4 linked regions of the Homo sapiens genome follow. The protein of the gene in region 1 interacts with the protein of each later gene in a biochemical or structural test. Each region holds a gene or a part of one and is shown in the gene's direction. Other genes may lie near its edges. The genes, in order: RALA, EXOC2, RALGPS1 and PLCD1.

The links.
Region 2: the proteins of RALA (region 1) and EXOC2 are reported together in a solved structure, tested with the Homo sapiens proteins (2 studies listed by BioGRID, with this or other methods).
Region 3: of the proteins of RALA (region 1) and RALGPS1, one has a biochemical effect on the other in vitro, tested with the Homo sapiens proteins (one study listed by BioGRID).
Region 4: the proteins of RALA (region 1) and PLCD1 form a complex in vitro, tested with the Homo sapiens proteins (one study listed by BioGRID).

Annotation. Positions count from the first base shown.
Region 1 is NC_000007.14:39,618,606-39,626,579, forward strand, and holds the start of RALA (ras-related protein Ral-A precursor), read left to right. Parts: upstream 1-4,966; 5' UTR 4,967-5,220; intron 5,221-5,721; exon of another isoform or gene 5,722-5,822; intron 5,823-7,974. UniProt on the Homo sapiens protein: Multifunctional GTPase involved in a variety of cellular processes including gene expression, cell migration, cell proliferation, oncogenic transformation and membrane trafficking.
Region 2 is NC_000006.12:487,140-494,159, reverse strand, and holds part of EXOC2 (exocyst complex component 2), read left to right. Parts: intron 1-2,973; coding exon 2,974-3,035; intron 3,036-5,121; coding exon 5,122-5,181; intron 5,182-7,020. UniProt on the Homo sapiens protein: Component of the exocyst complex involved in the docking of exocytic vesicles with fusion sites on the plasma membrane.
Region 3 is NC_000009.12:126,910,159-126,917,781, forward strand, and holds the start of RALGPS1 (ras-specific guanine nucleotide-releasing factor RalGPS1), read left to right. Parts: upstream 1-4,623; 5' UTR 4,624-4,817; exon of another isoform or gene 4,818-4,854; intron 4,855-5,280; exon of another isoform or gene 5,281-5,335; intron 5,336-7,623.
Region 4 is NC_000003.12:38,026,626-38,034,005, reverse strand, and holds the start of PLCD1 (1-phosphatidylinositol 4,5-bisphosphate phosphodiesterase delta-1), read left to right. Parts: upstream 1-4,363; 5' UTR 4,364-4,466; coding exon 4,467-4,500; intron 4,501-7,380. UniProt on the Homo sapiens protein: The production of the second messenger molecules diacylglycerol (DAG) and inositol 1,4,5-trisphosphate (IP3) is mediated by activated phosphatidylinositol-specific phospholipase C enzymes. Essential for trophoblast and placental development.

The DNA of each region.
Region 1 (7,974 bases):
CTTCCCAAACCTGACTGATCATTGGAATTCAAGGGAGAGTGTTATTACAGTTACAGATGCCTTGGACTTCACCCAGTATTTTCTAATCCTAAATCTAAATATTTTCTGTTTAGAGTGGGACTTGAGAATCTGAATTGCCTTTGAAACTACACAGGTGATTGTGATAAGCAGTCACATTTGGGAACCACTGATAGAGTAGTCTTATCCTCTAATCCCTTGACAGAAAAGTATAGAAATATGTGGTCCACAAGGGTCGTCGGCATGAAGGGGAGAATTATGAAGACCCAAACTCTCATAACCCCACTCTTTACACATTCTCATTAAAGCTGTGTTTAGATATTCTAGATGACCCTTTTGTTGTGGGTCATCCGGACTATCTAAGCCCAACAAACATATCCAGAGGCATATCATACAGGTGACTGTCATCTGCATCACCTACTTAAGCCTATCTCTCCAAGGCATGACGTCATTAAAAATGAAGTGGGAAATTGAGGCAATGGTTCCACCAATTTAAAGTACAAACCCAAATAAACTATCTTCACATGAATGTGCTGAAAATGTGTACGACCTCCTAAAAAAGTTTCTGAGGTGATTGTATCAGCTTTTTTCCCGCTAATTCAACTAAACATCACAATATACATTTTACTCATCCCCAAAATATTTTCTGAGTACTTATTTTGGGCACCATGAAGGATACAAAAATGAATAAAACAATGTACCTGTCTTCAAGCTGGTAAAGATACAGCCATAAACATAAGAATTGTAGTTTTCAGTTTTAAAAACGTTAAGTTTGGCTGAATTTTGGAGATGCTGCAGGCAATCAATAATAAGCCAGAAATGTCCATATTATAAATACATTCTGGACTGTCATATCAAGCTGGTGACCCTGGTATAAAGTACTAAAAGAAACAATATATTTTGAGAATCTCAAAATGTGTGTTTGGGTATGTTACTTGACAACTGTAGTGAATTTTTAAGTCTTTAAAAACTAGTCTCAGAGCGCTAGTCTTTCAGCACTCTGAGCCTATTTCTTTCAACAATTTGTATCTCACAAAATTGTGAAAACAAAATGAAATAGTACAAATGTCAAGGTGTCACGGAATTTTTTTTCTTTTTTGAGACAGGGTTTCATTTTGTTGCCCAGGCTGCAGTACAGTGTAATGATCACAGGCACTGTAGCCTCGACCTCCTGGGTTCAAGGGATCCACCTCAGCCTACTGAGTAACTGGGACCACAGGTGAATGCCACTATGCCTGCCTAGTGTTGTTTTTTTTTAATTTTTTTTTTTAATAGAGATGAGGGCTCCCTATGCTGTCCAAGCTAGTCTTTAACTCCTGTATTCAAGCGATCCACATGCCTCGGCCTCCCAAAATGCTGGGATTACAGGTGTGAGCCACCACACCAAGTCATGGTGTCATGAATCTTATAGATAATGCTCATAACTCTAATAAATAATAAAACATGATTTTGAGTTGATTTTTCACCAGTGGTGACAAATGGCTATTAACCAATTACTTTCTTATCTGGCCCTAAAACACAAAGAAGCCTTGTTTGTCATTGCTGTTCCCAGATGTATAGTTAATATACATTATATGATAATTTTATAAATTGGTATATAAGCAAGTGTATAAAAATAAACATGCACATTATGTAGTCATGAATACATTTAAATGTTTACATTATGCATACACCTCTCTAAAGGAAATACTGAAGTCACCAATTTAATGGAAAAAATTCTCATCTACTTTAGGGATAGACATTGGACAAAACTTCACAAGTCTATATATTTCATTACATGTTTGTGATTAAACAGTGATGAGAATGACAGAGTTTCACAGGAATGTTCAACTTAATTGTGTCAAACATGTAACTGTCTATAAATTCTATAGGGACTGCATTATTCTATGGGGACATGAATAATGTTTTTAATACAAAATTCCAGTTAACTGACTGGAGTAGACTAATCATTAATTCTAAAACATGCTTCTGGCAAATCCCTATCTACCCTGTATTTTCCCCCAAAGCATATATTAGCTATGAGTAGCATGAATATAAAAGTTGTGGTTACCAAAACTTCTTTTTACTTCCCTCTTTCATTAACTATATTTGTTAATACACAAGGTTTGATCATAAATAGTAAAGTCAATTCACAAGTTAAGAAAAAAGATCTAAGTGTATTTCAAAACAGGATCCTTCATGTTCTTTGAGTAATCCAGGCAGCAAAGTCAGGAATGCTCATGGGTGCTACTGGATATTAGTGCTAATTACTAATAATATGTACTTACAATTATGCCCTTTCATCCAAGTACCTCAAAGAGCTTTCATAGCATTAATTTGTTATTTCCTATAATATCTTTGAGAGGCGGCTGATAGAAAGTTATTATTATCTCTATTTTACAGTCAGAGAAACTAGGGCATAGAGAGGTTAAGTAACATTGCTAGGGTCATACGGTGAACAACTGACAAAAAAGGGACTCAAGCTAATTATTCTCATTTCCTGTTCAGTATATTATCCATTATATGGTTGTTCAATACACCTAAATGCTTTTTTATCCTAGACAAATTGAGAATACTGTATTTAAATAATCTAAGACGTAAGTGAACGCGTTTCTCTTTTTTTGTGTGTTCAAAAATGCTGCTCTACAGGGATATAGAGTTAAAAACTAATAATTAGTCTTTGGTTTGCAGCTGTAGCTATTATTTATAGGGCTTTTACTATTTGTGGTTTTCTGAAGCTCTGCTCAAAATGAAGTATTCTATTTCTCACTGCTTTATGCTAGGTTAGCATAGCTGTGAGCCACCAAAAAGCAGCTGAGACAGGCTGACTAATGAATTTGAGGTTGTCTTTCATTGCGTTCCTATTGCTGACTCTTCTTGAAGTCATCCTCCTTCTAGCTCTCCATTCAGCAGATATTTGTGCAACCCACCATCCTCAATCCTCAGCCTATGGCCAGCTTAACTGTTGTCAATGATTAAATTTAAAATATTTTTATTGGAATGGAGCAATTCCTACAGAATAAAAAAGAAAAAAATTAAAATATTAAAATATAAACATAGATAATATTTCATTTTATGAGTTAATGATGCTATACTATTAATAGTTACCACTGTTACATCCAGTTTCTGCTAAACCTGACCTTTAGGGTCCTTAGAAGACCATTAAACATTAGAATATTGGTCTATGGATGGACACATATCACCATATTGGGTTTTTTAATGCAGTATTTCAGTAATTTTCCCAAGTAAAGGCAGGGAGAAAGGAGAAGTGGTTTTGAAACTGTGCTCAATGACGTAAGACTGCAGTCAGCTTGGTTATGGTCATCTAAACCTGTGGTGTTTCCAACTTCAGCCCAGCTCCTCCCTAGAGCTCTAGACCCATATAGCAACCACCATTAGACAGCACCACTCTTACTTCACTCATCAACTCCAAAACTGAACTCATTTTTTTTCTGCAAAAATGTCCCCTCCCAGGACTCATCCTAACTCTTCCTTATCTTATTTAGTAAAATACACCCTTATCCTGCCCCTCCCTCAAAGCAAAACAAGGCATCATCATTGCCTCTTCCATTCTCCTATCTGGCAGCTGCCCCTAGCAACCAATTACCAGTTGATATGGCCTCTTGAATATTTTAGGAATCCATCTCCTTTGGATGCTCACTACCATTCACACAGGGTCCTTAAGTTTTCTCTTACTGGCTTCTGCAATGGCCCCCTTGTGGGCTCTCTGCTTATCCTTCTCTGCCCCCCCACCTCCACCCCCCCAAGTTATCTGTTCTCTACCAACAGAAGAATAGCTTAAATTGTAATCTGTCCACTCATTGCCTCACCAAGGCATAGACGATTCGTGATTTGGCTCCTGTTTTCTTCTCCAGCCTCATCTTCTTCAGCAACCTAAGTTTGAACTTCAAGACCTGTAATTATTACTCATTCTTCTCAACAAATTATTTGTCCCCGTGCTGCATCTCCTTTCTGTTCGGATCCGGATTTGCCATCCCACCCCTATTTTTGTAGTAGAAAATGCCTATTTATCTTTAAAACTCTAACCTACGTTAGTAAAGCTATCCATTCTTCACGCTGTACATCTTGATAAACCATACTTCCAATAGCAATGATTTGCTTTCATGTATGTCTGCCCACTAGACTGGACATTCCTTGAATGGCTCATACCAGGAATATAGTTGGTACTCAATTTGTGGGGAGCAAAGAGAGATAAGCGAATAAATGTCAAGACATAAGAATCTGTAGCTGCTAACTTAAATTTACGGATTTAGTGAAACTACTTCTCACAAGCTACCAAATCACAGTGCCATGGGGCCGCAAGATGATCTCAGTGCCACACCGACACCTGCAGAGTCGCAGGGGGGTCCGACACCCCTCAGAAAGAACTCGCAGACCGTCCGAGAAAGCGAATTCTCCAGGGGATCAGCAGTTAGATGAGGCCCAGGGCAGCCACGAGACCCTCCAGCCAGGGTAGGCGGCTGACCCGCCTCCTGGGATTTGGCCCGTGACAAGCCACGTCGCCAGCTCCGCTCTGAATACCCCCGGCCACGCCACACGAGCGGCCTCAACCCTGAGACGCCCAGGGAACATGAGCTGACCCTCTAGAAGCAAGATGGCGGCCTCCGCTCTCCCCTCCTTCCCCCAAGAACCCCCTCCTGGTCCCCAAAAGAAAGACAAGGACACCGCGGCAACGACGCCGAGATCCGGGAACCTCCGCGAGGCCCGCGGCCACTCCCGAGCCCCCGGGAGATGACTTCACCTCGCGGAGCTCAGAGAGCCGGGGGTGGGGCCGTCGGAAAGACAGCGCGGACAGCCCTCAGCTTGCAGGGGGCGGAGGCCGGGCAGCCTGCGCCCTCCGAGCCACTGTTCTGCGGCCCAGGCCCATGATCACCCTCCTCTCAGCCCACGGACAGGAAGTCGCTCCCCAGCTGCCCCGCCCCGCTCCCCAGCGCCCCGGAAGTGATCTGTGGCGGCTGCTGCAGAGCCGCCAGGAGGAGGGTGGATCTCCCCAGAGCAAAGCGTCGGAGTCCTCCTCCTCCTTCTCCTCCTCCTCCTCCTCCTCCTCCAGCCGCCCAGGCTCCCCCGCCACCCGTCAGACTCCTCCTTCGACCGCTCCCGGCGCGGGGCCTTCCAGGCGACAAGGACCGAGTACCCTCCGGCCGGAGCCACGCAGCCGCGGCTTCCGGAGCCCTCGGGGCGGCGGACTGGCTCGCGGTGCAGGTGAGCGATGCCCGCTCGGGCCGCCCGGGGAGGGACTGGGGCCACCCGGGCGGCGGCGGGGGTGTGTCCGGGCGGCGGCGGGCCGAGGCCCTGACGCGGGTTCGGGCTGCCGAGATTGCACATCCCACGTTCTGCCCGGGGACGAGCTGCGAGATGAGCCCGGCTGGAATCCGGGGCACCGCGTTCGCCGCTGTGGGGCGAGTGAGCCCCCGAGAGTGAGCGGCTGCGGAGAGGTCCCCTGCGCCCGGCAGCCGGTCTCAGTTGGCCTCGTCCGAAGGTCACCCCGCACCTTTCGTCCACGGCGCCCAAGTTCCCGCCCGGGCGGTGCCCGCGACCTGGGGCAACCCGCTGCCGCCGCAGTCCCCGCGCCTCACTCCACCCCTCTCCCCTCCTTCCCTTTCTTTCCACTCCTTGCCTGTGCTAGAGCCGCTGCTTTTTAAGCATCTCCGCCAGGGTTTTTTGTTTGTTTGTTTTGTTTGTTTGTGTTTTTTTTTTTTTTTGCCAGTTAAAGGAATGGTTTTTCAGACTTAAAGTCATTAGACTCTCCGCACTGAACTGAATACCTGGCCTTGGGCGCTTGCACAGCTTTAGCCCATTTTCAGGTAATCTAGCTTCTAATATGAGGAAGAGAATACATTTTGGGAGAGAGGTGTTTCCTCTGTGGTTCGTTTCTGAAAGATTTCCAGAAGTGGAAGATGTGATTGGCATGCTTTAGCCTGGATATATGTGTTTAAGTAGACGGGGGTGACGGCACACAGGGGTGGCAGTGTTGTTTCAGGATTTAGGGAGAATTAGGGAGTTAACTGGCCTGTGCTCGGAAACCTGAATGTCCAGACTTGTAAGAGCTCATCCAAGTGTGGCTGAGGTAGTGTGAGAAGTCCCGTGCCACGCCCTACGTGTCAAGCTGAAAAGCACCTAATTTACAAATTGTGTGGTGTGGGGGGGGAACAACCTTTATAAAACATGTATCATAAGTTAATTCTTTTCCAGAAAGTAAATTGCAACTTTAATCATATTCCAGAAATTGGATAACAGATTTCATTGGTAAACTCTTACAGTATGTTTATTAATGTATTTCAGTGTGTCTTATTAGCTCATGTTTTTCTGTCTCTGGTAATACAATATTATTCTAAACCGACTCCTGTATTAAAATAATACACTATTATTGTGAAGTATTATCTGACAACACCGTTTTTTGACCTTGGATTTCTTTAGGGCAGGAGCCATGTCCTACTTATGACTGTTTCTATGCAGTATGCCTTGAACATAGAAGCTGTTCACACATTTCTGCACTGAATGAATGAGTGTATAGGTTATCTCACAGTCACCATCCAGGAGTTGCTTATTTTTGTTGGGCTAGGCTGTTTGTTTTGTTTTAGGTTCTTGCCACTTACAGACTTTACTTCGTGTTTCATTCTTCAGCAGTCAGAGTTCTTTGCCTTCCAAAACTATCCTCCTCTGAAAGGTTAAAATTATATTAAAATTGTGCTGGGCATTATAACTTGTATTCTAGTGTTAAATGCTTACTACTTGAGCATATTCAGAGTTAGTAGGAAGAGACTGCCTGGTGATACACATCAAGTTTATGTTTGGGGTTGATAACTGTACCCTATCTTAATGAAAAAGAGGAAATTAGGAGTTACCATTGTTTGGATAACGTGGTGCTTCCCAGAATGCTTATAGTGGTTCATTCTTCCCATGAATACACGCAATCCTCTGAAATCCTGATGTGACCTTGGCATGATTTACCAATAGCCTCTTTTACATTTATTTTCCAAGATCCAGATGCTGTTCTCTAGTGTGTTTGCTGAGTGTGCAATAATATGGATCATTTATTTTGAAGCAGTACTTCATTACAACACTTTCTTCACAGGGCTTTCCAAAGGAAGAAAGGGCTAATTATAGAAAAGAATCTTGTCTACCATTTGTGAGGGAATATTTTTGTCTGTAGATGGTTGGATTATTTTCACATTAGGGAGGTTCAAATAAGAAGAAAGTGCTGACGTTTTCTCTCCTCTCCAAGTATGTGGTGGTGGTCCTGCACTGTTTTTCCAAGCTTAGCTTCTACAGAACATAAATACATGTACCAGTGTCAATTCTTGTAGATATGCATATCAGTGTAATATGCATTTGTATTCTTTAGTAGATGAGTGGCAAGGACAATTACTTTTAAAATACTGGAATAAGAGGCTGTGAATGTTAATGAGGAAAAAGACTATGATTTTGAAGGAGACAGTTTATGATTTTCATTGTTTTATAAAATATTTTAACTCTTAGACACTAAGGAGAGGGAAGCCAGCAATTTCTTACCTCAGTGACATTACCACTATACAGAGGTTAGATTTTCCTTCTTTAATTCAGCAACCCTCTTGGTAATAAGAGTTCTCATGTGTTGATTGCCTGCCGAGCACTGTGATAAGAGCTTTACTTAAATTATTTCTAATCTCCACAACACTTCTGCAAGACAGGTAGTTTTCCCATACTTTATTAAGGTAAATTGAAGTTATTTGCCAGAGGCTAGGCACCTAGCTTGTGTTTAGTAGAGCCTAGATTTGAAAGTAACAATTGCTGAGAGCACTGAGTATTATTGCAGTTAATCCTAAATGGCTGTGGAAAAGGCAGTTCTGACTGAGCTGGAACTGGAGCTTCAGGAAGGTGAAGATACTGATTCCTCTCTCTTGGACATCAAGTGTGGCCTGGGGTTGCCAGCAGTCCTGGCCAGGTGGCCTCAAGCAGCAGCCATTCTTCTCTTTT
Region 2 (7,020 bases), on another chromosome or scaffold:
TTTTCTCTGAAAATTGATGTATCAGATCTTTGATATTATCGTTTAAGTTGAAAGGTCATGGTTATTATAATAGTTCCATCACAGGAGATGAGTAGTATAAACTGTGTAATACTACAGATGAATTAACAGGCAGTCGCAGTCGCTACTGTGGGCCTTAGCAGTCTTAGAATTTTAACAGGCATCCGCCCTCTCTACACATTACCTCCGTAATCCATTTATCTGATGGCTAAACCACTCTCAAAACCAGCAGGGAGAGGTTGGAAAGTGATCTCAGAATTAGCTGGAAAATTTTTTCACGTACACATGTCCAGAAACTACTGGCCATCAAACTGTTCCAGCCTCCAGTTTTTGAGACCTCCTCGGGCCTGGACAGACATGTGTATTTTGAAAAAGGTCGTGAGTCTAAACTCCCGCTTCACTCTCCCACTGAGAATGACTTTGAGAGCTTCCTTCCTTGAGGCCATAGCTCTAAGAGGGATAGCAGGTTAACCTTTGATAGGCAATTAGGTGCCAAACTCCAGAACTGTCCTGAGAGCTTGGTGAAAAGGGGAGTGACAGTTTGGTGATTTTGGCAGATCTTTTAGCATGATGTTTTCTGGATTACAGTTTTGTAGGTATTATATAGCTAACCACAGTTTTTATAATTGGCATAACTTACAGGTTAATTAAAACACTCTATCACCTTGATTGAATAAAATTTCTACCAGAAGATTGGTTTTGTAGTAATTTAATCTTTCTCCTAAAATGGTCAGCTGAAAGTTCTACCTTTTTTCCTGGTAGGTCTGTTTTTACCTATACTAGAATATAAACAAAATAGAGACAGAAATTGTCATACTTTCTAGCATTTGTAACTTTCTAGTTATATACTGTTTTTCAGGCTTCTAAGGGACTGAAAAAATGAAACCAAACAATTGCCTTCCAAACAGAAAAAGGTCACTGAATATCCTGTGTCATATATATCTGCTTTGATCTAGATGGCTTACAGAATTTCTAATAAACTGTGAAGAGCTGGCTGTGTCTTTTGTCATTGTTTTATGTTTTGTCCACTCCTTGAGAATAAGGGATATTTCTTTTAAATGTTCTCCTGTGTGTCCCACTCACTGTGGGCACCTACTTCAGAACATCAAGTTATCATTGTCAGTGGGTCTGCTGGAGCTCCCAGGAAACTGACTTGTATGTCAGATCACACTTATTCATGCTTGCGTAGAAGTGAAAGCTTAACTTTTTTCTTAAAACTTTTATGAAATATTTCACATAGCATACGATCTGTCTACAATAGAAAAAGAATATGCAATTCAATGATTTTTGGTATATTCAAAGAGCTGTCCAGTCATCACCATCATCAATTTTAGAACATTTCATCCCAAAAGAAACCCCTGACCCATTAAGTCTAATCATTTGCCTCCCAAACCACCCTTTCCCCCTACAGACAACTACCAATTGGCTTTCTATCTCTATGATTTGTCTACTCTGAAAATTTCGTATAAATGGAAACATGAAAATATGACCCTTTGTGACTGGCTTCTTTCATGTAGCGTAATGTTTCAGGGTTCATCCATGTTGTGACATATGCCAGTGCCTCGCTTCTTTTTACATATAATATTCCACTTTAAATATGCCACATTTTATTTATCCATTCATCAGCTGATGGGCATTTGTGGTTTTCCCACCTTTGATTAATATGCAGAATGCTTCTGTGAACACTCCTATACAAGTTCTTGTGTGGACATGTGTTTTCATGTCTCGTGCGTGCATACCAAGGAGCGGAATTGCTAGGTCATGTGGTTACTCTATACTTAATCTTCTGAGGAACTGCCAGACGGTTCTCCAAAGTGGCAGACATTCCTACCAGCAATTTTTGAGGGTTCCAATGTCTCTACATCCTCACCATTATTTGTTATTGTCTCTTATTGATTATAGCCATCCTAGTGGGTGTGAAGTGATACCTCATTCTGTGGGTCGTCCTTTCACATTCTGGATGGTGTCTTTGTAGCACTGGATTTTTAATTTTGGTGAAGTCCACTTTATCTGTTTTGTTGTTTATACTTTCGGCATGATTTCTAAGAAGGGTTTCCTAGCCTAAGGTCACAAAGATTTACACTGGGTTTCTTCTGATAGTTTCATAAGTTTCTTACATTTAGATCTGTGATCCGTGTTAATTTTTGTGTTAAGGAAAGGATTCAACTTCATTCTTCTGCATGTGGATATCCAGTTGCCCTAGCACCATTTGTTGAACAGACTGTTCTTCCCCCACTGAGTGGTCTTGGCACCCTTGTTGAATAGCAGTTGATCATAAATATGAGGGTATACAATATTTAAATATATTTTAGCTTTGGAGTATGGCTGAAGTCAGAAAGTCTGAGGCCTCTAAATGTGTTACTCTAAGATTGTTTTGGCTGTTCTGAGTGCCTTGCATTTCCTTATGAATTTTACAATCAGCTTGCCAGTTTCCATTAAGGAAAAAAAAAGCAGCTGTGATTTTAATAGAGATTGCATTGAATCCATAGAGCAGAGTTTAGGTTTTGAGATTAAGGCAGTGTGCCTGCAAGGGCATAGGTGTCAGGAAGCATGCCAAGCCACATCCTTACCTCTGTGGGACACGGGCCCTTTCAGGGCAGTGTTTCAAAGTGTCTTTCCTCTTGCAAGACTAAAAGAAAAATTAGTGGTTAGAGAGTAAATACAGATGGCTGGAAAATCATGACACAGTTTGTACTTTTCATAGTGAGATATCTAGTTCCCTGCCCTCACACAGTCATCCTTGACTACAAGTTAATTTTCAGTCAACGAACATTTTGTGGTAGCAAATTTCTTCGGACTGTTTTAGAAACTCTACTCATGACTGGCGGTCACCATGGTGGTATTACGCCAACCCCATCCTACGATGAGCAGGCTGGAGACCCTTAACCTTAGTACTTGTTTATATTTGATAATATAAATTTTCCTGTTGTCACTTTGTCTTTTTCTCATTTTCAGGCGAGACTTGAAATCTGTGCTTTGAGGGACACTGTGGCTGTTTACCTGACACCCGAAAGCAAGTAAGTGGCAGTGTTCTTTAGTTGAGTGCTCTATTAAAAATAAAGGTTGTCTTACTAGTCAATTCTGTCCTCTGTAAAGATGACTGATCAGAGCACATGCTCATGAATTTGTGATGTGATAAAGTTTATGTCAAGGCCACTTTGTAACACAATGTAAATGAAAGGGGTTTAATATAATTTTTTCATTTACTACTGACAAATCTTAGTCTTATAATACAGCAGAGTATGACATACTTCTTAAAGCAAAAGAGGATAAGAACTGAGTCTTAGTCTGTTCATAGCAGACTCTGAAGGACAGCTCAAGTGCTGTAAATATCAGTATAAGAGGAAGCCTTGTGGTTTCTCTGCAAAATTTTGTAGTGGAAATTTGATAATTTTTAGCTGTTTTGAATGAAAGTCAGGATTTCCTACCATTGAAATATCAGTAGGTGAAGTGAAGCAGAACTACTGTTTGTCTGTGCAAAATTGTTTACTACGTGGGCAACATTACCTAGGAAATACTGGGTTATAGTGTTGATGTGCCTGAGAAGCCAAGTCGTATGCAAATGAAATGTTTGAGGACACTGTAATATGCTTACTCACTCATTTCCAGCATCTGATAACATGGCTTGCTGTCATTCTGTCAGCTTTGCAACTGAAAATACGTTTTCCATTTTTTCCTAACCAATGAAGTTAGCCTTTCATTCCCGTCGGTCACAGCTCACCAGCAGCCATTTTTAGTGGGCCATGTTCACTGTTGAGCCACACCTTTTCCCAGCCATCGTTTGTCTGTACAACATACTAACAGGATGGAAAGCACCCAGCCCATGTTGGATGTGTGCACACTTCATGCAAATGCCTACCCTCTTCCTGCTGACTTAGTTTTAGAGTATAAGGTACTCATCTATAGAGGAAGTTTAAAATATTCTAGGCAAGCTTTTGAGGGTGTTAAATGAGAAAATGTGCCAAATCACTTTTTAATTTTCAGTACCCTGCCAATAATATGTAGTATGTTTATCATTATTGTCATACTGTCAAAACAATTACATCACATTTCTTTCAATTAATCAAAAAGAGGTTCATAAGAAACAAGCTGATGGTGGAGGTAGCGGCAGTGGCTTCCACACCAGGAAAGAGGCCGCTGAATGTGGGAAGGGACCCGAGTGCGCCAAGCCACCCGTCCCACACCCCACCGCGCCCTCCCGGGAGCAGCTGGAGATGCCCAGCACCGGGTTTTATGACTCTGTTGGAACTTTTCAGTCTTTCTCTCTGTTGCTGTGACACTTGCCCCTGATTTGAGGAATATTGCTCAAAAACGTATTTCCTGGTAGATTGAGGATGTTTTTACAATATAAAAGCAACGACCCCCTAAAGTCAAGAATTGCAGTATTTCTTCACCTTAACCAATCATAAGAGAGATAAAAGAACTGTTCCTTTGTGAATGGTACAAGTTAATTACCACAGTCTCCCCTATGATGCTTTTCATTTGGTTTGGTAATTTTTCTAATACTTTCTCCTTGTAAAAGCTAAACATCCCACAGTTTTCTTTTTAAAATTCTTTCCTTTTACCTTCATGTAAAGAACTTACATTGAATTTTTAAAGCATCTATATAGCTCTCCATTTTTCTACAAGTTTTAAGTAGACTGTAATTATTACAAGACATTGGCTGTAGATCAGGCCCTGTGCAGGCCAAATACTGTAAACACCCCACTGTGTCATCTTTCAGAAGGTCATCCCCATTTCTTAGAGTAACTGGATTATCCCCAGCTGCTTGTTTTGAAAAGACTCCTTTTAAATTAAACATGTTCACATTAAGCTCTCCTCTATCACTAGCATCCTTTCGAAGATGTTTTTCCTTTAGCTTTTCAAGTAGCGTTTCATTTCCTATTTGAGTTTTTCTGACCCCGTTGCTACAAAGCCTCCACCTGGTAGCTACACCTTCGCTTTTACTTTTACTTTTTCTATTGTTTTTCACTTTTACTTTTTCTCATATTTCCTTGCTTCACTGGCTTTTATTGGCTTCTCAATAATTAAGGGATGCTTAAGAATTTGTCAGCAGTTCTCCTGTGCAAGGCTTCAACTTCAGTGTGGCTGTTTGTGTTTCAGGTCAAGTTTTAAGCAGGCTTTGGAAGCCCTGCCCCAGCTTTCCAGTGGAGCAGATAAAAAGTAAGTCCTGTGTGCTGTTCTTAGGAGCCAGTTGAATGTGCTCAACAAGGTTTTGTTTCCTAAAATACCTTTTAAAAATAATGATTTGGATTCTAGGAAGAGCAGAATCCAAATAAGAATCAGAATAAGCAGATATACCTACTTAATAGCGTTAGTAGGTACATCTCGTCACCTGTAACTTGCATGTCTTCTGAGTGACAGAATAAGGTAAGACCTTTCTTCTGGGTTTAGGAGAATTTAGAAGTTGGCTCTCGTTTCAAGTGACTGGTATAGAAAAGGTCTTAAGAAAGCTATCTATGACTTATTCAGTAAACTGTATTAGTAGCATACATAAGAAGTAATGGAAAAAAGAAGACAGCATAGTAAAATGCAGGAGTCGGTGATTTTTTTTTTAATTTTTGAGTAATTCAGTAGTATTTATTTTGTGTTCTATAAAATACAAAATGTTATGAAAGTAGATGTGCACATATGGCATAATAAAGTTTTATATATACATATATATTTCATTAGACCACACTGATGATCTCAACCTGAATTTAAACTTTACTACTCATAGAACAGGAAACGGACCTAAGAGAAAATCTAGGCCAGGTAAATTTCATAAATGCCCAGGCTCCCCCGAGCTGAGGCAGTCTTCATTCCTTCACCACCCGCCCTGCACGTGGCTGCCGGGCCCATAGACAGGCACATGTGGTGCACTGACTGAAATGCTGGCACCGTGAATGCAGTGCAGACTCAGTGCAGGGCAGAGAGATCACATAGGCTGGGCCATGGGGGGGAGCTGTCACATGGCATCGACGCACAGAGCAGGCAGCAGACCAGCCCTTCCACCATCAGTCCCCGGGGGCATCGCCGCCCCGCCCCGCACGCATCCCACGTGGGCACATGGCAGCTGTGCAGACAGTGCCTGCACAATCAGCCCTTTCTTCCTTTTTCTTGCTGCTTCTCTAACTTCCATCCTCTATTTGAATTGGTTCCAAACCCTGTTCATTTCTTTAAAATAAATATGATAAAAGATTGAAACAGTCACTGCTACGTTTCATATGTGGAACAGGGCTCAAAAGGTAGTGTGTCACGAACAATACACACCCTGAAATGGCCCCAGGTCAGGACTATATTTTAGATTTGCTGTGGGGATAGCATTCTAATATTGAACATTGTTAAACCGTGAAATAATCTCTTGACCTCAGTACTGTTAAACCCAGTTCTTGGTTGCTGCATCCAAACCAGGAAAACTCTAAGATCCTTCCTAGCTTTAAAAATTAGATGACTTGGGCCGGGCGCAGTGGCTCATGCCTGTAATCCCAGCACTTTGGGAGGCTGAGGTGGGCGGATCACGACTTCAGGAAATCAAGACCATCCTGGCCAACATGGTAAAACCCCGTCTCTACTAAAAATACAAAAATTAGCCGGGTGTGGTGGCGGGCACCTGTAGTTTCAGCTACTCAGGAGGCTGAGGCAGGAGAATTGCTTGAATCCGGGAGGTGGAGGTTGCAGTGAGCCGAAATCGCGCCACTGCACTCCAGCCTGGGCGACAGAGCAAAACTCCATCTGAAAAAAAGAAAAAAAATTAGATGACTGTATCACATCAGTTGGGGAAACAGATTGCGATATCAGGCAGCAAAGCGATTTGCCTAGTGGAATTAGCCCCTAACCCTGCTTGCCCTGGTGGTTAACTCACTGCTTTCGCTCCCCACTCTCTAATACCTGTTAATACAAAATGAGAGGAAGGGAAAGTCAGCAGTGGCTGCTGGGAGATGGGGTTAGGGAAGAGGCTGACTAGAGGGGCAGCAGGGGAAAGGGTGCAGCCATGCCACGTGCTGTAGCCTGTTACACTCC
Region 3 (7,623 bases), on another chromosome or scaffold:
GAGTCTCACTGTATTGCCCAGGCTGGAGTGCAGTGGTGTGTGATCTTGGCTCACTGCAGCCTCCACCTCCTGGGTTCAAGTGATTCTCCTGCCTCAGCCTCCCAAGTAGCTGGGACTACAGGCATGTATCACTGTACCTAGCTAATTTTTGTATTTTTAGTAGAGACGGGGTTTTGCCATGTTGGGCAGGCTGGTTTCAAACTTCTGACCTCAGTTGATCTGCCTGCTTTGGCCTCCCAAAGTGCTGGAATTACAGGTGTGAGCCACTGCGCCTGGCCAACAATAACTTTAAAAAATAGCTTTATTGGCCAGGTGTGGTAGCTCACACCTATAATCCCAGTACTTTAGGAGGCCGAGTCGGGCGGATCATGAGGTCAGGAGATCGAGACCACCCTGGCCCTGTCTCTACTAAAAATACAAAACATTAGCCGGGTGTGGTGGCACCCACCTATAGTCCCAGCTACTTGGGAGGCTGAGGCAGGAGAATCACTTGAACCCGGGAGGCGGAGGTTGCAGTGAGCCGAGATTGTGCCACCTCACTCCAGCCTGGGCAACAGAATGAGACTCCGTCTCAAAAAAAAAAAAAAAAAAAAGCTTTATTGAGATATAATTAACCCACTTAGAGAGTATAATTCGGCCAGACATGGTGGCTCATGCCTGTAATCCCAGCATTTTGGGAGGCCGAGGCGGGCAGATCACTTGAGGTCAGGAGTTCAGAACCAGACTGCCAACAAGGCGAAACCCTGTCTCTACAAAAATACAGAAATTAGCCAGGTGTGGTGGCATACACCTGCAGTCCCAGCTACTCAGGAGGCTGAGGCAGGAGAATTGCTCGAACCCAGGAGGCAGAAGCTGCAGTGAGCTGAGATCGTGCCACTGCACTCCAGCCTGCACAACAGAGTGAGACTGTTAAAAAAAAAAAAAAAAAAGAAAGAAAAGAAAAAGAAAGAGAAAAAAAGAAAAAAAAAGAGCGAGAGTATAATTCAATGGCTTTTAGTATATTCAGAGTTTTACAACCATCACCACAATTAATTTTAGAACACTTTCATCCTCTTCCAAAGAAACTCCTAAGTTGTTGCCCCTAAATCCTCCTCTCCTTCAGCCTTAGACAGCCACTTTGTCTACCCTCCATCTCTATAGATTTGCTTATTACGGACATTTCATATAAAAGGGATCATATAATACGTGGTCTAGCTTCTTTCGCTTAGCATGTTTTTAAGTTTCATCCATGTCGTAGCATGCATCAGTACTTCATTTCCTTGTATAGACAAACCATATTTTATTTATCTATTCATCACTTGATAGACATTTGGGTTATTCACATTTTTTGATATTGTGAATGATGCTGCCGTGAACACCTGTCTACAAGTTTTTGTGCAGACATGTTGTGTCCATTTCTTCTTGGGTGGTAAGTAGGAGTGGAGTGATTGAGTCATATGCTAACTCTATGTTTTCTAAAGTGGTTGTACCATTTTATATTTCCACCAGCAGTGTATAAGGGTTCCATTCTCTCTCTCTCTTTTTTTTTTTTTTTTTGAGAGGGAGTTTCACTCTTGTCCTCCAGACTGGAGTGCAATGGCGCCATCTCAGCTCACTGCAACCTCCACTTCCCAGGTTCGAGTGATTTTCTTGCCTCAGCTGGGATTATAGCCACTTGCCACCACACCCAGCTAATTTTTTTGTATTTTTAGTAGAGATGGGGTTTCACCATGTTGGCCAGGCTGGTCTTGAACTCCTGACCGCAGGTGATCCACCCACCTTGGGAGACAGGCGTGAGCCACCACGCCCAGCCAAGGGTTCTATTCTCTTCACCTTCTCATCAACACTTGTTATTGTCTATCTTATTTGTTGTAGCCATCCTAATGGGTGTGAAGTGGTATCTCATTGTGGTTTTGATTTGCATTTTCCTAATGGCTAATGATATTGAGCACTTTTTCATGTGCTTATTGACCACTGTGTATCTTCTTTGGAGAAATGTCTATTCAGATCCTTCTCTCTCTCTCTCTTTCTCAGACTGCACTTGGCTTTATTGCTTTAAGAAACCTATTATTTCTCGCTTATCACCATCTAAACTTTTCTGTCTTCTTTAACGTTGAACTCCCTTCTTCCTTGCTTCATTTTACTCCCATAGCACTTTTCTCTATCTAGCCTACTACTGTAAATATTGATTTTAATAGCTGCCTTACCCCACTAGAATGTCAACTCCACGAGGACAAGAATTTTTGTCTCTTTTATTCACTGCTGTTTTCTCAGCATTTACAGTAGCACTTGGCGCATAGCAGAGAACCATTAGATATTTGTAGAAAGAATGAATACATCCTTCTGGAAGCATCAAGAATCAATATTAAATGACCTTTCCTCATTTTAAAATTGGGTTTATAATAACTTCTAATATATCACAAAAGAATCTGTGTTCATTGAAAAAACTTAGAAAGTATGCATAAGCATAATAAAAGTATAGATGCCATTTAGCAAGCGTACATTGCACACACTTCTGTGCTTGCCCAAAGTCACACAGGTAAATATAATAGTAGCCAATGTTTATTGAGGTCCTGTTAGGTGCCAGGCACTCTTCCATGTATCATCTCATTAATTCCTGCCAACAGCCTGTCTAAAGAGGTTGCTACTTTTATCATTCTCATCTTTCAATAAAGAAACCGAGGCAGGTTGGGCGCGGTGGCTCAAGCCTGTAATCCCAGCACTTTGGGAGGCCAAGGTAGGCAGATCACCTGAGGTCAGGAGTTCGCGACCAACCTGGCTAACATGGTGAAAACCCATCTCTACTAAAATACAAAAATTAGCTGAGCATGGTGTGTCTGGCGTCTGTAATCCCAGCTACTTGGGAGGCTGAGGCAGGAGAATTGCTTGAACCTGGGAGACGGAGGTTGCAGTGAGCCAAGATCGTGCCACTGCACTCCAGCCTGGGCAACAGAGCAAGACTCCGTCTCAAAAAAAAAAAAAAAAAAAAAGAAAGAAACGGAGGCACATAGATATGCTAAGTAACTTGCTCACATGTACACAGCTTGCTGGTGGCAGAGCCAGGGCAGAACCATTGCACTACACTGTCTCTTGTTCTCTCTCTCTCTTCTTTTTTTTTTTTGGGACGAAGTCTCGCTCTGTCGCCCAGGCTGGAGTGCAGTGGTGCGATCTCAGCTCACTGCAAGCACCGCCTCCCAAGTTCACGCCGTTCTCCTGCCTCAGCCTCCCGAGTAGCTGGGACTACAGGCGTCCGCACCACGCCCGGCTAATTTTTTGTATTTTTAGTAGAGACAGGTTTTCACCATGTTAGCCAGGATGGTCTCTCTCTCTTTTTTGAGACAGGGTATCGCTCTGTCATCCAGGCTGGAGTGCAGTGGCGCCATCACTTGAGGCTCACTGCAGCCTTGACCTCCCGGGCTCAAGTGATACTCCCATCTCACTCTCCTGAGTAGCTGGGACTACAGTCTGCGCCACCACGCCTCGCTAATTTTTGTATTGTTATTAGAGACAGGGTCTGGCCATGTTGCCCAGGCTGGTCTCACACTTCTGAACTCAAGCAATCCTCCCGCTTTGGCTTCCCAAAGTGCTGGGATTACAGGCATGAGCCAACTCGCCAGGCTCTTGTTCTCTTTATGCAAAATAATTAAGCACCTTCTTCGATGATTACCGTTTTCTTAATACAAAATAGCAGAAACTTCTCCCAGAGGTCTTTTAAGACACAGGTGGTTTAACTTCTACTGACTCTATTTATATTCTTTTTTGTTTGTTTCTTTTTTCCTTTCATAAGCTTTGGGAAGCATAATAACCAATCATTCCATATTCATTCATATTACTGCAAAATTACTTTGAAGATTGTCAGAATGATGTTCTATTTGTCCAAGAATCTTTCGGAGTAGGGCAGGTCATAGTACCTCCTGTCTGTGGGAGGCAGAACGGAGTTTTGCTGTGGTTCCAGATTTCCAGGGATTCACAGACCTGGCTTCAATTGTCTTTGCAATTTATTATCCCTGCGACTCTAGCTAAATGACTTAACCTCTGTGCCCACCTCACCGTGCCTGGCACAGAGTAAAGATGTGGGAGCAGAGAGACAGGATCCGGGCTCATTCCCCAGCTTTGCTCCTGTGTGGTCTTGGGCAAGTCCCTTCACCTCGTTGGGCCTAACTCTGCCCAGCTGTAAAATGGATGAGACCGCCCCCCCCCCCGCCCCGCCAGGAACTCCGAGGTTTCTTCTGGCTCTGACGTTCTGGGCTCTGTGCCTACCTCCCAGCTGTGAAGAATGGGCACTAAGGCGATGTCTCGCTCACAAAACCATTTTTGTTGAAAACGATAAATCCCAGGTAGGGATTTACGGGGGATATCGGGTGAGGCCTGGACGGCCGTGTGGGGAATAAGATGCGCGGCTATTTCTAGGCAGGGGATGGGCGTGGCGGGCGGCGGGCCGGGTGTGCTGGCAGCGCAGCATCCCTGCGGGCGGGGAGGGCGTCTGCAGATGAGCTCGGAGGCCGAGGCCCGGGAGGACCGCGGATGCAGCGGCTGCGCACTGGTACGACCAGCCGGCCGATTTGCGTGTCTCCGCCCCTACAACGAGCTGGTTGGGGGGCTGTTCTGGTGCCGCGCGCCGATTGGATGAGAGGCCCGCCGCTCAGGCCCTGGAGCGGACGGTTCCTACTGCGGCTGGGCACCGGCTCCGCTCCCGCGTCTGCCCGCGCTCCAGCTGCGCCTGGCCCGGCCCCGGCCCGGCTCGGCGTGGCCCCGGCCTCCAAGCGAAGGCGCCGCTGCCGCTGGGCCGCTCCCAGGGCCATGAGGAAGCGGCGGCAGCCACTGCGGCCCGCGTCAAGGTGACCGGCCGGGACTGCGGCGGCGGGGAGAGCGGCGGTGAGAGGCGCGGCCGACGGGGCGGGGCGGGGCGGGGCGGGCCCTGAGGCCGGGCCTGAGGGAGCTGCAGGTGTGGGGGGCGGGACCCCGAGGGCCGCCGAAGCCGGGGAGGGGCCTCGGTGCGGGAGGCGGGGCCGGGGCCGTGCCTGCGGGTGCCCGGCGCCGGGGCCTGGCCGGGGTCCGGGGGTTCTGGGGTCCGGGGCCAGGGGCGCGCTGGTCCCCGGGAGCGTGAAGGACGGCGGGGAAGAGGCGCGGGCGCGGGGGGCGGGGCCGGGGGGGCAGTTGGGCGGGGCGCCGCGGCTGCAGGTGCGGGGGGCGGGGCCGGCGGGGCTGCCGTGGGCGGGGCTGTGGGGTGCGGCCCGCGCTGGACCCAAGGAAAGCACAGGTGCGGGGGGCGGGGCCCGGGGACCTGCAGCGGTGGGGGGCGGGGCCCGGGTGGCTGCGGTACGGAAGCAGGGCCCCAGGTGAGGAGCAGGCGAGGGTGAGTGGTCGCCCGAGAAGGAAAGGCCGCCCTCTCCGCTGCCCAGGGGTGCTTGGGTGGGAGCGGGGGCTTTGGGCTCCCTGAGGATTCTGGGGGCATCCGGGGCTGCCGCTAGAAGGGCCGTCCGGGCCTGCCTGTGCCTCTGCTGACTCGGGCTTGGAGCTCAGCTGCCCTGGTTACTGGCCGGTTGCCTCCCCTATGCTACGCCGCGCCCTAAGTGGGGCGCGCTGTTTTTCGCACCTCAGGGGCTTTCCTGTTGCTATTGAAGGGGCTTGCCAGGATGCGGGGGGCGGGGGGTTGGTTGTCATTGGATGATCGGTTGTTGAAAAATGTGTGTGCTTGAAGAGTAGTATGAGGCTTGGGAGGGGTCCTGGCTTGCTGGCCACTGGTACCAGAAGCTGCTGTAGATCTCAGCAGTGCGTCTCAAAAAGACTGAAATGGCAGCCTGTTAAGTGGGGAGAGCAGGGATGAGAATTCAGAAGCTTTTGACTATGCTACCTGGGAGAGTTTTTCACCTGTTTCCTCCGTTGCAAAATGAGCATGTTAGTACCTGCCTGTGTGCCTCCCAGGGGCCTGGTGAGGATAGGATGAAACAGTGCCTACTGAGCAAATCGCTGGATAAAGTTATGAGTTTCCTTTTTCTTGTGCCGATGGGCAGGTTGGATTCAGGGACTGGAGAGTCTAAAGAAGAGAGGGTTTGTTTCTAGTTAAGAGGTGAGACTAGACCACTGTCTTTTCGCAGTTTGGGATGAGGTTTTGTTGGGAGTTCCCAAAAGACTCAGCCGTGTCTTGGATCGTGACTGCTTCTCTCTGCGAGGCCTCTGAGGGAGCTGCTGCAACGCAGGGAGCAGTGGCAAGTGGAAGCAGCAGAACATTTGTTTGCTGACCTTTAGACCCCAACCCCGGTGAGGACTCTGAGCTGGAACATAAAGCTCAGGCCTGAGGCTATGGAAGTCCCTCTGCCCCCATCCAAGTACAGACCCCGATTTTACCACATTCCAAGAGGGTCGGGCGCGGTGGCTCACGCTTGTAATCCCAGCACTTTGGGAGGCCAAGGCGGGTGGATCATTTGAGGTCAGGAGTCCGAGACCAGCCTGGCCAACATGGTGAAACCCCCTCTCTACTAAAAAATACAAAAGTCAGCCGGGCATGGTGGCGGGCACCTGTAATCTCAGCTACTCAGGAGGCTGAGGCCGAGAATTGCTTGAACGTGGGAGGCGGAGGTTGCAGTGAGCCGAGATCGTGCCACTGCACTCCACCCTGGGCGATGGAGTGAGACTTTTCCATCTCAAAACACACAAAAATCCCCAAAAGAAGACCCCCAAAAGAAGGCAATGCCTGACTCCACTGTGTACCCACAGGGGCGGGGAGAAGGAAGCAGGATGACAGGGCTTTTTCTGAATTTCAGAAGAGTGTTGTATACCCATATATGTGACCTTTCAAAGCCCAGTGCCTCTGCTCACTGGTAGTTGACCAGTCCAAACTGTAATGCCTCCTACCTTCGTTGCATGGACAGAAGTGAAGGTAGGTGGAGCCTTCTCTACTAACCTGAATTTTTTTTTTTTCACTGTAGAAGCTGTGGGACTTTAGGGGCCAGGAACCATGGTGCTGGCCTCCCTCATTACCACTAGTTGGTGCAGTGGTGACCCAGTAGCATTGAGGGGATTAGGCCCTTACTGGTGCCTGTGCTTGTGTGGCAGGTCCCAGAGGATCTAGAAGCAGCATGTGAGAGTTCTCCCACTCTGTCTTGGCAGAAGCGGTGTTAATGGCTCTCAGAGACTGCTGCTGTCTGAGTGACCATCATGCTCTTTGGGTTAGAAGGAAAGCTCAAACTTGGTGGCAAAGAAGACCTAGAACATGTGTTGAATAATGAGGGGATTAGCAACATTCAGGGTGGAGAGAAATACTTCATTAATGAAAAATACTGCATGTGAGGCTCTGTGATATGGCCCACCTCTTGAAATGGATTTTCCTTTTCAGTATGGAGGGTAAGAGCTCAGACTTGGAAGTCAGTCAGGTCTGTTTGAAACTGCAGGCTGCCACCTCCTGCTGAGTGAACCAGCACTACTTCCTTAGCTTCACAGAGCTTTGGTTTCTTTATTTGTAAAGCAAGGATAACCATGCCCACCTTGTGAGGTTGTTATGAAGAATAAATGAGACGGGAGGGGAGAAGGCACCTGATCCACCTGGTTAGGGTCCTGTTCTGTCTCTCACTGCCTGCCCATCTTTCAACACAAGCTACTCAGAACAGCATGTAACATGCAAGGAGAGCAGGACAGGGAATTCTG
Region 4 (7,380 bases), on another chromosome or scaffold:
TAATTTTGTGTGTGTGTGTGTGTGTGTGTATTTTTAGTAGAGACAGGGTTTCGCCATGTTGGCCAGCCTGGTCTTGAACTCCTGACCTCAGGTGATCCACCGGCCTCAGCCTCCCAAAGTGTTGGGATTACAGGCGTGAGCCACCGTGCCCAGTCATAAAAGGTGAATTATTACAAGGCCCAACAGGACTTGGTCCCGGTTACCTCTCTTTCTCCTCCCATGATCAGCCCGCCCCACTTCCCCGTTCTCTTGCTCTCTTAGCTCCAGCCACATTGGCCTTGTCCTCCTTGCTCATCCTCCAACATACCAACACCCTCCTGCTTCAGGGTGTATTTCCTGTGCCTGGAATCTTCTGCCCAGATATCTCTAAATGTCTCAGTCCCTCACTTCTGTCAAGGCTTTGCTTGACTGTCACCTTTCCCATAAAATCCAGCCTGATCAACCCTTTTAAAATTTAATTCTGTCAGGTGAGGTGGATCGCTTAGGGTCAAGAGTTCAAGAGCACCCCAGCCAACATGGTAAAACCCGTCTCTATTCAAAATACAAAAATTAGCTGGGCGTGGTGCCACACACCTGCAATCCCAGCTACTCAGGAGAATCACTCGAACCTGGGGGGCAGAGACTGCAGTGAGCTGAGATCACACCACTGCACTCCAGCCTGGGCAACAGAGCGAGACTCCATCTCAAAAAAAAAAAAAAAAAAAAAATTAACCCTATCCCATTCCTGAACTGCTTTAACCCACTTTTTTCATTTTACTTATTATCTGCTAATATCCTGTACAATTCATTTCTTACATTTGTTAAAATGTCTCTTTTCTTTCCATTAGAATTTGGGCTCCAGGAGGGCAGGGGTTTTTGATGTGTTTTGTTCACAGATGACTCCCAAGCCTCTAGAACAGTGCCCACTACACAGTAGCTGCTCAATAAATATTTGTTGAATAAGTGACATAGCAGAACAGTTTTCAAATGTGGGTCTCTTCAGTTCACACATCCCATAAGTGTGTTTCCTCCTTCAGGTGAGTTACCCTCTGCCTCCTCCTTCAGATAAGGGTCTGAGGGCAAGTTTCCTGTCTGTTCCCCATGCCAAGCACTGTATTCTGCCTCTGGGGTGGAGGTGAGCATTGGGACTCAGTCCACAGTGAAATAAACATCACAGTTACATTCACAAATGAATACACAATAAAATCCCACAAATATAATTATAGAATAGTAACCCCAAATAATCCCATACTGTCCTGGGACTACCAGCAGGTCCAGCAGCCTCATAGTTCACTATGGCATCCTGGATCCCTGCAAGGTCAGGACCTGAGGATCTGACCCTGCATGACCTGAGGACTCTCACTTTGCCACAGCTGCTCCCTTGGGAGGAGCAGCCTTCACTTTTCCTCCTGATGCATCTGGACTTGGGCCCATGACCCTCTGGAGGGAGCTCCTATGGGGGTTTTGCAGCCCTCAAAAGCAGCAGGGGCATGACCTCAGACCAACAGCCTCAGGTTGGGCTCTGGCCACCTGGATCTGTAGAGGAGGCCAGGCAGAGGATGGCTGTGGGAATATGGGATTCTGGTGGCCTTCTAGCAGGTACTTATTTGTGCCCTGTACTTGCCATCCATTACTTCTGCCAGTTCTAAGGATGATTATAGCTCCTGATTGAGGAGCTCAGAGAAGCGAAGTCACTTTTCCAAAGTCTTAACAGCAGGAAGCTGCAAAGTCAAGATTTAAACAGCCCCTTCACCCCATATCCTGGAGCAGAGGCTCTAAAGACAGGGAGGGGGCAGAATAAACCCCATTCACCTCACCTACCCAAGCTGGGCTAGGTTTGCATTTCATGGGGGAGGGACTGGAAAGGGCCAGCCCTGAAGCACGCTTGGAGCCTGACCATCCTGAACGTTGGCATTCTTGGGTGATAATACCCCCTCCTCAGGCCTCCAGAGAAAGTAGTGGTGGAGAGACCAAGTGAAGTGGCTTGAGGCAGGCACTGGTGCCAACACTAGGTCTCTCTTCCCTGTCTCCAGTGATCCCAGAAGCTCCATCACCCCATCCATCCTCACACAGACATAGAAGACTGGGCATGGTCAGGAGAGTGAGATGCCAGAAACTCCCCCATTAAAGAACTAGTCTTTGGGGCATGTGTGGGCCCTCTGTGTACCCAAACTAAGCCTGCCAAATAGCCCTCTGAGTCACCGGGATCTCAGGGCATCTTGCACAGGCAACTGAGAGCTGGGTTTTGAGGAGGGTAATTTAGGCACCTGGCCAGGGCTGGGCCCACAGACGGCCCTGGGAGTTGAGGGCAGAGGGAGTGAAGGCAAAGGGAATGGAATCCAGCAACTTCGTGACTTGGTACAAAGCCTCTTTGCCTCCTCTGAGCTCCAGCCCCTCCACACAAGTTCACTCATACCACACAGGCTTACCCCTAGCAGGAACCAGCAGAGCACCTCCCAGCCTGTGAGAGCCAGGAGGGGCCGATAGCCAGGGGAAGAGAGGAGAGGACTGGAGTGAGGGCTCACCCACGGCTCTGAGCAGCCGCCGGGTTTCTCTATGAGCAGGGCGGGGCCCAGCCCTCATGTCTGGCAGAACCTGGTTGCATGTGCCAGCTCTGAGTCAGCAGTGCCCATCCTGCCCAAGAACCCTGGGCTAGGGAGGAGGCTGCAGCTCCTATGTCTGTGCCAGGGGCCAGAGGAGGGATTCTGTGAGGTGGGTTTGGAGCATGCAAAGGAAGAGCCTGGCTGCATCCCCACCATGGTACATAGACAAAGGGAAAGGAGAGGCTCCCAGGTAATGTCCTGGCTTGGGGCCTGGGGCTCAGAGTTGGGAGATGATGTGAATACATAGGAATGATGACTGAGATGAAGCCATGTCCACTCCTGGTGTCAGAGTTTCACTGTGACGCTGCCTAGGAAGAGGAGGGGGGCTTGAGGAGGCCTGATTTGCTGAGTACAGGGGCTTGCAGGCTCCAGGAGTATCAGAGGTGCAAGTGGTAGGCTCCAAGGCCTGAGGAGGCCTCCAGAGGGCAGAGAAGGGGACCCTTCTTCCCCACTCATCCCCTGTATGGAGGTCCAGAGTGATGCCTGCCAGTATGAATTTGCTCATCCCTCAGCAAACATGGAGTGTGGCCCTGGGCAGAAGGGAAACCAAGGAAGGAACTGACAGGCCTGCCCAGGGCAGGGGTGTTCGCACTGCAGGACAGGATTGGAGCTGAGTGCCAGGTAAGGGGTGAAGCCCCGTCTGTGGAGAGGGGGCATGCAGAGCAGGGGGCTCTCCAAAGCCCAGAAGTCCTGATCCACTTTTAACCCCCAGAACCAGAAGACTGTCCTTCAGCTGTTTCACATCCCTTATTCAAGGCCACCTAGGGCCCAGAAGAGGAGGGATTGGGGTGAGCCCAGCCCCCTCCCCGCAGAGCTGGTCCAACTAGCTTTGCCTGACTCTCACATTGGCCTTATCAGCCCAGGAGGCCTGGGTGGCTTCCTGGGAGGCCCTCTGGGGGCTCTCTGACACCAAGAGCCCAGTTTTCCCAAGGGACTCTCCAAAGGGGTGGTGGGCAACAGGATCTAGGGACCCTCCCAGGGTCTGTGGTGGGAGGGGTCTCTGGGCAACCTATAAAGGGGGTTTTCTGGGTCCCAAGAGTTAGGGGGTGGGTCTGCATAGGGACCTTGCCCAGACAGCCCCTTGGGAGGCCACCTGAAGAAGGGACCCTGGGGATCCTCCCCCTCGGCTGCATGGATCGCTGGGGTTTTGGGATATGAGTGGCTCAAAAGTGAAATCCGTGCACCTGCTTGCTTCCCCCTCCCACACCCCCAACACTCCACCAAAGGCACTCTTGGGGTTAGAAACCTCCCAGCGAGAGGGAAGGGGACCCTCCTCCCGACAAGGTCCAGGTATTGCTCTCTGAAGACCTTCTAATCGTGTCCGTGCACCCATTTCGCAGAAGGGAATGCGAACGCTGGGAGCTGCGGCTGGAAGCCTGGACGCCGCGTCTCCCTAGCGCAGCAGCCCGGCTGGGCGTCGGACCTTACACGATCCCTTCCCCGGGATGACGCCGGATTCTTTCCAGCATCACCCCGACCCCAGCGAGGCGCCCACAACAGGGCGTGGGGCCCGGCCGCCCGCGGTAATGACAGGGCCCGCGGCCCGTGGGTGGCGGCGGCGGAGGAAGCTGGAGGAATCTGGCTATTTCTGGTCGGGGCGCGCCCGCTGGCCCGGGCCAGGGTTGGCCAGTCCTCCGGGCCCCCAGCTCTGCCCTCCCTCTCGCGTCCCCAGAAGGGGGCGGGGAGAGACGAGGGTTGGCGGGCTCAGGGGGCGGGGGCGCAGGGCAGCGGGGGCGGGGCGGTGTCCCGGGACCACCCCCGGCCTCCTCCCACCGCGGTCCATTCAGGTCCCTGCACCGCACTCCGCTCGGACCCCAGGCCGCCGGTGCTGTCGCTACTCAAGTGAGTCCCGCGGTGCCCCTCCCGCCGCGCCGCCCGTCGGGCATGGACTCGGGCCGGGACTTCCTGACCCTGCACGGTGAGTGCCTGGCCCGCGCGAGCGGGAGACCCTGCAGGGGTGGACCCCTGGAAAGCTGTTCCGGGCCCTGGACAGGGAGCCCCCAGCTCCTTCGGCCGCCTCCACACCACCCCGGGCCCGCCTCTCTGCCCCTTCTCCGGACTGGGAAAATCTCAGCCCGCGGCTCCCTGGGTGGGACTGCCGGGCACGACCCTGGGCGTTTCCAGGCTTGTCCGAGATCTAGCCCGGGGGGTGGGTGGGCGGGCGGTACGGGTCTAAAGACTTCCCTCCGCCTCGCGGACCCCCTTGTCCTGGTCATGAAAGTCTGGGCTCCACGATCCCGCTCGCACGGAGGGGCGGCGAAGGAAGGAAACAGCATCCAAGAACGACCAAAATTCTCCTTGCCCCATCCGGGCCGCCCCAGAGGCTCCCCAAAGCCTGGGCGTGCCTGGACCGCGTCAGGCCGCGCGGGTGTGGCGGAGCAGGGGCTAAGCGGGTGGGGAGAGGAGGTGTGCAAGGTTAACCGTGGTCGGGCCGTGCAGCCTTAACTGCCCAGCGCAGAATAGTCAGCGATGCTCAGGCTGAAAGAAGCAGCACGATCCCCTCATCTGCGACCCTCCTCGGGGGACAGGGCCAGGTCTCAGCCGGAGCTGCCTGCTCCATCCTTTGTCCAGCGGAGCTTTGTTTCCTCCAATATGAGCCAGCTCTTTGCCCTTTCGCTGTCCCTCCAGCAGCGAGGGGAGCCTGGGCTCCCGAAGGCAGATCTGGAGGCCTTCTGGGAGGCGGGAGGTTGGGGAGGGTAACTTTGGGCGCCTCTTTGCTCCAGGACAGGCACTCACTCACTCTTGGTGGGGGCTTGCCCTCCTGCCCTCCCAGGTCACTTGCCATCTCAGCAAACCCTGCTCCTTTCATACCAATCACTGCTTTACTGTATATCCCTCTCTTTTTTAGTACCCTTGGGGTTGGAGGCTTTAGTGGCCACCACCCATCCATCTAAACTGTTCATGGACATAATAGATGGGAAAGAGAAGGGCAGAGTCCTCTAGCCTTCCACTAGAGTCCCCCTGGAATTTAGAGGGACTTAGAGATGTTCCCATCAGCCAGCCTCCAGTCTATCTCGTGTTCTGCAGTTGGCACAGACCTGGTCCTCCTGGCCCAGAGAGACCTTGCTCTGTGCCCAGAGCTGTTGCTTTTACACCAATAGCCTAGGCTCCTTAAAGCCACCTTGTCTAGATGAGTCATGGAGTCCCTGCCCCTTCCAGTGCTCCCTCTTCTTTCTTCAGGCCAGAGGTGTCTTTCGTGCGCCTGCCAGACTAGCAAGAAGGGAGGCTGGGCAGCTGAGAGGACACAGTGGACATCTCTGCTTTCTCTCTGACACAGCGTCATTCCTTGGCTCCTGTTGGAACAGGCTTCATCCTCAGTGTCTGTGCCTTTGTCCAGTTTCTCTCCTGAGGCAGCCTTGATATCTTTTCCATGGAGGAAGACACATGGAGGCTCAGTCAGGACCTCCCAGTCCTGTGGCATAGGCTTGGCTGCCCTGGCCCACCCCATTTGAGACCAGCCTCCCAAATGCCTAACTCAGTCCAGCCTTTCCTGAAGGGTTGACATGAACACTGTGACCCCAAGCTGTTTTCCCTGAAGGCCCTGCCACTTCTAGCTCATCACCCAAAATTACCTCAACTGCCTTCTGTCCACACTGCAAACCAGATGGGGAAATAAGAACCTGTCAAGGAGAATTGTTGGTGGGAGGGGGTGATCACTGTGCCCTGTGCTGTTCCAGGTTGTCTACACTTGCATTGGAGAGTCTGCATCCGTTTCACAGTGTGGGTGCCCCAGCACTGGATGTGCTGCAGGACCACACTCTCTGGCCTAGGGCTCCACACTCTCTGGAAGGAGCCCAGAGGGACTCCTTCTGTTGGCCTGGGGAGCTATGCGGCTCACCTAGATGTGACATGTCCCTTCTGTCCTCACCCCAGATGCATGCAGAAGTAATGTAGTTTACTGGCATAGATTCTGAAAGCAAAGTACCTGAGTTCAAGTCTTGGCTTTCTCATCTCAGATGAATCCCTTGACTTCCCTGTGTGTCAGTTTCCTCATCTGTAAAATGGGGGATAATACCATCTACCTCATAGGGTTGCTACGAAGATTGAATGAGATAATATCTACACAGCAGTTAGAACAGTGCCTGGTACCCAGTGAGTACTATGTTCCTGCAGGAGGCCCCCTCCCCAAATTTCTATGCCCTATGAGTTGCCATCTGTAGTTCTTTGGGAGATGATGGGGGCATCATAAGGTAGTTCCTAGTCATGGAAAATAGGGCCAGAACTAGATTCAAGAGCGAGCCAGCCAGCTCTTTCTAGTGCCTCTGAAGCCCTCAGACTGATGCGACAGCATCCATCCTCCTTCCTTCACCTTACTTCTTCCACTCTTTATTCTGGCTATGCCTGGACTGGCTTCTCTAGCAGGTCCCCCGATGTGCCCCAAAGGACATTACCTCCCAGGGCCCTCCCCTCACTGAACACCCCCCACATACACACTAACTTTTCCTACACCCAATCCCTTTTGCCCCCACCCCTGCAAGAGGTGCCGTTTGTAAAAACAGAAAATAGAGGGGCCTCATCTTGGCCCCAGTAGACCTGGGCTCCAGTCCTAGCTTTGGTTCTACTTACTGTGGGTCTGAGAATCATCCATGGGATAGCAGTACATATTTCACAGTGGGTGTTGTGAACATAAACGCCAATGGGCATAGAAATTCTAGGTTGCCCCAAAAACCAGTCCTCCAAGAGATGATGATTCCAGAGCTCTTAGCAAGTTGGGGTGGCCAGCTCCTCACTCACCTGTGTTCCAAAGCAGTCTGCCCCTGGGCTTCCAGGCCCATGCTACACAGGCACACACTGATCC